2 linked regions of the Homo sapiens genome follow. The protein of the gene in region 1 purifies or fractionates together with the protein of each later gene. This does not show direct contact. Each region holds a gene or a part of one and is shown in the gene's direction. Other genes may lie near its edges. The genes, in order: C1orf146 and PLBD1.

Region 1 (3,823 bases):
AGATATTTCTTTGCATTCTTTGTGTTCTTAATTTTCTCAGATTGTTGCACCATTAGAAGCTAGGTTGATCCACAGACAGATGGCTGAAAGTGGAAAAGAAAAAATAAAATGGACAACCACCATTATTATTAGCTCATCTCTTAAGGTAAAGGGGCATTTGGGCCACTGATCTTTAACTTAAAAAAATTAAAAGCAGCTTTCATATAGAACAACATTTTAAAAGGTTCTTAGCTTAATTATCCACAATTAATTGTGGGGAGCAGGAAGTACATAAGCTAAATGTATTTTAAAGATAAATTAATAGACTTTTTCCATTCATTTTCAACATCCGACTTCCTTAATTCTTTGAAGGTTGGAGATTTTCTAAAGTTTTTTTTTTTTTCCTTCTGTAAGCACTCTAATAGAGATGTTAAGGAATTCCGGAAACAGTAAAGATATGCAAATATATATTAGTTAAGGCTTTCTGAGAGCTAAAGAACCAGAAACTGATATCCTAGCCTTGGCAGCACTGGAATGAGACTGTCTCCTTATGGTTTGGAGAGGGAGAGATGGAAAGTTGAATGCCTGAGAGCAGGTGGTCAGCTCACAACCGTTTTAAACTCCTCAGCTCACAAGACTTCTCCATTGCCCTGATATTTATCTTACGGACACCAGCTGATGTCTGGAATGAAGGGGCAAGAAATGATTGTTCCATAGTAACGTGTGGTTTTATGCTTTTTGCTGTATTTTGTTTTATACTTTGTTGTGAGTCCATTTTCATAAATTATATATATTTTTATTATTATACTTTAAGTTTTAGGGTACATGTGCACAGTGTGCAGATTAGTTACATACATATATATGTGACATGCTGGTGCGCTGCACCCACTAACTCGTCATCTAGCATTAGGTATATCTCCCAATGCTATCCGTCCTCCCTCCCCCCACCCCACAACAGTCCCCAGAGTGTGATGTTCCCCTTCCTGCGTCCATGTGTTCTCATTGTTCAATTTCCACCTATGAGTGAGAACATGCGGTGTTTGGTTTTTTGTCCTTGCGATAGTTTGCTGAGAATGATGGTTTCCACCTTCATCCATGTCCCTACAAAGGACATGAACTCATCATTTTTTGTGGCTGCATAGTATTCCATGGTGTATATGTGCCACATTTTCTTAATCCAGTCTATCATTGTTGGACATTTGGGTTGGTTCCAAGTCTTTGCTATTGTGAATAGTGCCGCAGTAAACATACGTGTACATGTGTCTTTATAGCAGCATGATTTATAGTCCTTTGGGTATTACCCAGTAATGGGATGGCTGGGTCAAATGGTATTTCTAGTTCTAGATCCCTGAGGAATCACCACACTGTCTTCCACAATGGTTGAACTAGTTTACAGTCCCACCAACAGTGTAAAAGTGTTCCTATTTCTCCACATCCTCTCCAGCACCTGTTGTTTCCTGACTTTTTAATGATTGCCATTCTAACTGGTGTGAGATGATATCTCATAGTGGTTTTGATTTGCATTTCTCTGATGGCCAGTGATGGTGAGCATTTTTTCATGTGTTTTTTGGCTGCATAAATGTCTTCTTTTGGGAAGTGTCTGTTCATGTCCTTCACCCACTTTTTGATGGGGTTGTTTGTTTTTTTCTTGTAGATTTGTTTGAGTTCATTGTAGATTCTGGATATTAGCCCTTTGTCAGATGAGTAGGTTGTGAAAATTTTCTCCCATTTTGTGGGTTGCCTGTTCACTCTGATGGTAGTTTCTTTTACTGTGCAGAAGCTCTTTAGTTTAATTAGATCCCATTTGTCAATTTTGGCTTTTGTTGCCATTGCTTTTGGTATTGTAGACGTGAAGTCCTTGCCCATGCCTATGTCTTGGGTGGTAATACCTAGGTTTTCTTCTAGGGTTTTTATGATTTTAGGTCTAACGTTTAAGTCTTTAATCCATCTTGAATTGATTTTTGTATAAGGTGTAAGGAAGGGATCCAGTTTCAGCTTTCTACATATGGCTAGCCAGTTTTCCCAGCACCATTTATTAAATAGGGAATCCTTTCCCCATTGCTTGTTTTTCTCAGGTTTGTCAAAGATCAGATAGTTGTAGATATGCGGCGTTATTTCTGAGGGCTGTGTTCTGTTCCGTTGATCTATATCTCTGTTTTGGTACCAGTACCATGCTGTTTTGGTTACTGTAGCCTTGTAGTATAGTTTGAAGTCAGGTAGTGTGATGCCTCCAGCTTTGTTCTTTTGGCTTAGGATTGACTTGGCAATGAGGGCTCTTTTTTGGTTCCATGTGAACTTTAAAGTAGTTTTTTCCAATTCTGTGAAGAAAGTCATTGGTAGCTTGATGGGGATGGCATTGAATCTATAAATTACCTTGGGCAGTATGGCCATTTTCCCGATATTGATTCTTCCTACCCATGAGCATGGAATGTTCTTCCATTTGTTTGTATCTTCTTTAATTTCATTGAGCAGTGGTTTGTAGTTCTCCTTGAAGAGGTCCTTCACATCCCTTGTAAGGTGGATTCCTAGGTATTTTATTCTCTTTGTAGCAATTGTGAATGGGAGTTTGCTCATGATTTGGCTCTCTGTTTGTCTGTTATTGGTGTGTAAGAATGCCTGTGATTTTTGTACATTGATTTTGTATCCTGAGACTTTGCTGAAGTTGCTTATCAGCTTAAGGAGATTTTGGGCTGAGACGATGGGGTTTTCTAGATACACAATCATGTCATCTGCAAACAGGGACAATTTGACTTCCTCTTTTCCTAATTGAATAGCCTTTATTTCCTTCTCCTGCCTAATTGCCCTGGCCAGAACTTCCAACACTATGTTGAATAGGAGTGGTGAGAGAGGGCATCCCTGTCTTGTGCCAGTTTTCAAAGGGAATGCTTCCAGTTTTTGCCCATTGAGTATGATATTGCCTGTGGGTTTGTCATAGATAGCTGTTATTATTTTGAGATACGTCCCATCAATACCTAATTTATTGAGAGTTTTTAGCATGAAGGGTTGTTGAATTTTGTCAAAGACCTTTTCTGCATCTTTTGAGATAATCATGTGGTTTTTGTCTTTGGTTCTGTTTATATGCTGGATTACATTTATTGATTTGCGTATATTGAACCAGCCTTGCATCCCAGGGATGAGGCCCACTTGATCATGGTGGATAAGCTTTTTGATGTGCTGCTGCATTCGGTTTGCCAGTATTTTATTGAGGATTTTTGCATCAATGTTCATCAAGGATATTGGTCTAAAATTCTCTTTTTTTGTTGTTTCTCTGCCAGGCTTTGGTATCAGGATGATGCTGGCCTCATAAAATGAGTTAGGGAGGATTCCCTCTTTTTCTATTGATTGGAATAGTTTCAGAAGGAATGGTACCATCTCCTCCTTTTACCTCTGGTAGAATTAGGCTGTGAATCCATCTGGTCCTGGACTCTTTTTGGTTGGTAAGCTATGGATTATTGCCACAATTTCAGCTCCTGTTATTGGTCTATTCAGAGATTCAACTTCTTCCTGGTTTAGTCTTGGGAGAGTGTATGTGTCGAGGAATTTATCCATTTATTCTAGATTTTCTAGTTTATTTGCATAGAGGTGTTTGTAGTATTCTCTGATGGTAGTTTGTATTTCTGTGGGATCAGTGGTGATATCCCCTTTATCATTTTTTATTGTGTCTATTTGATTCTTCTCTCTTTTTTTCTTTTAGTCTTGCTAGCGGTCTATCAATTTTGTTGATCCTTTCAAAAAACCAGCTCCTGGATTCATTAATTTTTTGAAGGGTTTTTTGTGTCTCTATTTCCTTCACTTCTGCTCTGATTTTAGTTATTTCTTGCCTTCTGCTAGCTTTTGAATGTGT
Region 2 (3,823 bases), on another chromosome or scaffold:
TCTTTGTGATAAAATGCAATATTCAGATGTTATGTGCACTGCTTTGAAATCTCTGTGGAATACAATGCTCTCCAGTAGTGTTAACAGTCCTGGATCCCAGAGGTAGTGATGGAGAAGGTCATGGAAGATTTTCTTATGAAACGTATAATCCTGTTAACATTTGCATATGTATCCTTCCAGATGAGATACACAAGTAGATTTCATAGATAATATGTAGAGCTTTTTGGAGCAATTGAATCTCCAAGAGAGCAACAGACAGTTTTATATATACCCCAAAACATTTTTACAGGAGCCAATGGAACAGTGGGATTCATATTTTCTCTAACTGGGCAGCTTTGTTCTCAGCACCAAACAGGAAAACATGTGCAGTCTCATTTATGTTACAACTTATTTTATTAAGGGACCAGCCACATTGGATTCATCCAGTAGACATGACATAGAACTATGCTTTACGATGAAGCTCATGCCATCTTAGCTGCTGAGTCCAGAACAAAGCTGGATGGCTTCCTTGTTTTTCTTTGATGGAGTTGTTTAACAGGCTTGGTCTTTTTTAGTCTTTTCTAAAATACAAAGTGGAGATTGAGGAAATTATTTCACCTAAAGAGGCTAACATGCAATACCCAGGGAAGGTCAAAAGTATACCAAAGTATACCAGGTGCTGATAACCTCAGTACCACCCTTAGGTCTGGGCACAGGAACCCCACCCTCCCAGCTTGGAATTACCTTCATGAAAATTACCTAAATCCCCCTCCAGCATCCTGAGACTGGCCAGGCTGGCAGTATCTTGACCTGTGTCTCTGTGCATCTAGTTTAGAAAGCTCCTTTCCAGAAAATTTCAAAATCCCCTTCTAGTGCCCAAGACTGACCAAGGTGGCAGAGCCATCCAGGTCAGCTTCTCTGAGTCCAGAAAGCAACGCATGTGGACTCCCTATCTGGGGGCTCTTCTCCTCCATTCCTGCCCACGCATGGGTTCAACAAGATGCCCTAAGGAGCTCTGGGACTCAAGCCTATGGCCTGGTCCTGGTAAGCAGATTCCTCTAGTTGGCCCTCACAGTATATATTTTTTGCAAGATGGTGCATAACTGAGCTGTCAGAACGGTGGTCACACGATGACCTGGGGTGACTCTCATGTCAGAGCATATGTTCAGGGCTCTATGCTACTGAAAACCACCTCTTACCCTCGGGTTTCAGCATGCAGCAGGGGAGGACGGTAAAGCGAACTTCGACCTATGAGCTCCACATCTGGCCCCTGTCGTGGCCTCCTCACCCCTGCAGCTCTGTACCATGTGTCGGTCAGTCCTTGGGGCGGGCTAGGCCTGGCCCCTCTGAGGCCTTTTGAGAACCTTGCTCCACAACACAAACGGGCCTTTGCAGCAAATCTTTTGCTGCAGTTGGTGATGTGACTTCCTACTGTCTTGGGTCAGTCTTAAGCCAGATGGATTTTTCTGGTGTGATTGGGACAGCTCTTCCAGCTCGACTTATAGGCTTCTCACCTATCCTACCCACTGGTGCCCGTGGGTGAGGAGTGAAGGTGGGGGAGGGTTCAGCATGAAAAGAGATTTGACTCATGAAGACTTGACTTAAATTGTGAAGCCTTAAATTATGAAAACTTTACTTAAATTTTCCTGGGGCTTTTAGCCTGTTCTTTTATCTTTTTATGTACCTACTTTCAAATACATGCACTTAACATTTAAACAGGCTAAGCAGGCTCATGCCTGTAATCCCAGCAATTTAGGAGGCCAGGGTGGGCGGATTATCTTGAGCTCAGGAGTTTGAGACCTGGGCAACATGGCAAGAGCCCGTCTCTGCAAAAATACAAAAAAATCAGCCGAGTGTTGGTAGCTCATGCCTGTAATCCCAGCTATTTGGGAGGCTGAGGCTGAAGAACAGCTTGAGCCCTGGAAGCAGAGGTTGCAGGGAGCCGAGATAGCACCACTGCACTTCAGCTTGGGGGACAGAGTGAGGCCTCGTCTCAAGAACAACAACAAAGAGATTACATTCTAGGGAGGCAGCAATTAGCCTGAAGAGTCCAACAGAAAACATGTCGATCTATGTTTACACTGTAAAATTCCCAGTGTAGCTTTAGTAACCATAAAACAAATTATCATTCACAATTTTTTTAACACTCTGGGTAAGGCTTGCATTTGTGGTCATCATTAACAAAGCATAATAAGGATTTTTGAGTCATTAGAAGCCAGGATTCACAGGTAGAGTGGTAGATGTCGCAAAGTCATTAAGAAAATGGTGTTAGGGAACTGCAGAGGCAAGGAGATCTGTGTTGTTTCAAAACAAACAGGTTCCAAAAAGTCATGGTTTTGTAATAACAGTATTGCTACCTTTTTCTCATAACAAAAAATAGGAAATTAGCCAAGAACAATGCATTTAATAATAAAGAATACAAAGAGATGGTACCTGGATACTGTAACAAATCTTCACGTGCACTGATTGGACAATAGACAAAACAGATTGCCTTTCTCTGCCCATCATCCTAAATCTTCAATGATAAATCATCATATCTCACATGTACTGATGAATTTTTAAATATATGTTTTTAATCAAATTGTTTATATAGGCAGGGGCCCTGTTAAAAAAGACAAACAAACAACAACAAAACAACAACAACAACAAAAAACACTTGCCTGAGGCACTGGATACCCAAAGGAAAGTGGCTTTGAATGGCCTTGTTCTAGGAGTTTCTGTCCCTAACAAGAAGGGTTTTGAATACATGGTCTGTTTGCCTAGTAACAGCTAAGGCTGAGTAAGGAATGGAGAAGCCTTGCACTAGCCCTCCCCACACATTTACTTATTTTGGCAATGCAAATTAATAATCAAGGAGGTAAGACAAAGAGATAAATCACTAGAAAATGACGGCACTGAAATGGCAGCCAATACAATTGTGTGAAGACCTCAGCACAAAGATCTGATAGTTTTAACCAATCCAGAGAAAATTTACTTGTCAACAACATTGAGTCTTCCAATCTACTAATATAATCTATTTGTTTATTTCAGTCTTTAATTTGAGTCATATCATGTAGTTTTCAGTATTTAGGTCTTACATACCTTTAAGTAAGTTAAATCCTAAGTAATGTTTGATGCTACTGTAATCAAAATGTTTTTTATTCTTTTTTCAGTTGTTTGTTGCTCATATGTATTTATTGGTTACCCATTGCCACATAACAAATTGCTCCAAACATTAGTGGCTAAAAACAATAATGATTTAGTTACTCATGGTTTCTGTGGATCAGGAATTTAGATAGGGCACAGTGGGGATAATTTGTCTCTACTGTGACTGGGGCCTCAGCTGGAAGACTCAATGACTGAGGGGCTAAAATCTCTGATAGCTTAACTGAGACTGGAACATGCACTTCCAAAACGACTTACTAACATAGCTGACAGGGTGGTGCTGGCAACTGGTTCCTCTTCACTTGGGCCTCTCCTCAGAACTGCTTGAATGTCCTTCATGGCAAGACCCCTGGCTCCAGACGAAGCCATCCAAAAGAACAAGGCAGAAATAGTAATGCCTATTGTGACCTCACCTCAGACGTCACACACGCTCACTTCCACCAGGTTCTATTAATTAGAAGCAAGGTGTTATGACCAGCCCACATTCAAGGAAAGGCGATTAGAATCCACCTTTTAAAGAGAAGGGTGCCAAAGAATTTGTGGAAATTTGAAAACTACCACAATGTATTACGATTTTTTTGTACATTATTATCCTGAGATCTTTCTAATAGCTTTTTTGTAGATTCCTTGGGATTTTCTATATATACAATCATGACATCTCTAAATAAAGACAGTTTGACTTCTTCCATCCCTTGTATGT

Evidence for each region.
Region 2: the proteins of C1orf146 (region 1) and PLBD1 purify together in Homo sapiens (affinity purification with mass spectrometry; one large-scale study listed by BioGRID and IntAct). This does not show direct contact.

The regions. Positions count from the first base shown.
Region 1 is NC_000001.11:92,231,342-92,235,164, forward strand, and holds part of C1orf146 (protein SPO16 homolog), read left to right. Parts: intron 1-40; 5' UTR 41-79; coding exon 80-145; intron 146-3,823. UniProt on the Homo sapiens protein: Plays a key role in reinforcing the integrity of the central element of the synaptonemal complex (SC) thereby stabilizing SC, ensuring progression of meiotic prophase I in male and female germ cells.
Region 2 is NC_000012.12:14,529,800-14,533,622, reverse strand, and holds part of PLBD1 (phospholipase B-like 1 precursor), read left to right. Parts: intron 1-374; exon of another isoform or gene 375-560; intron 561-2,412; exon of another isoform or gene 2,413-2,581; intron 2,582-3,381; exon of another isoform or gene 3,382-3,484; intron 3,485-3,823. UniProt on the Homo sapiens protein: In view of the small size of the putative binding pocket, it has been proposed that it may act as an amidase or a peptidase.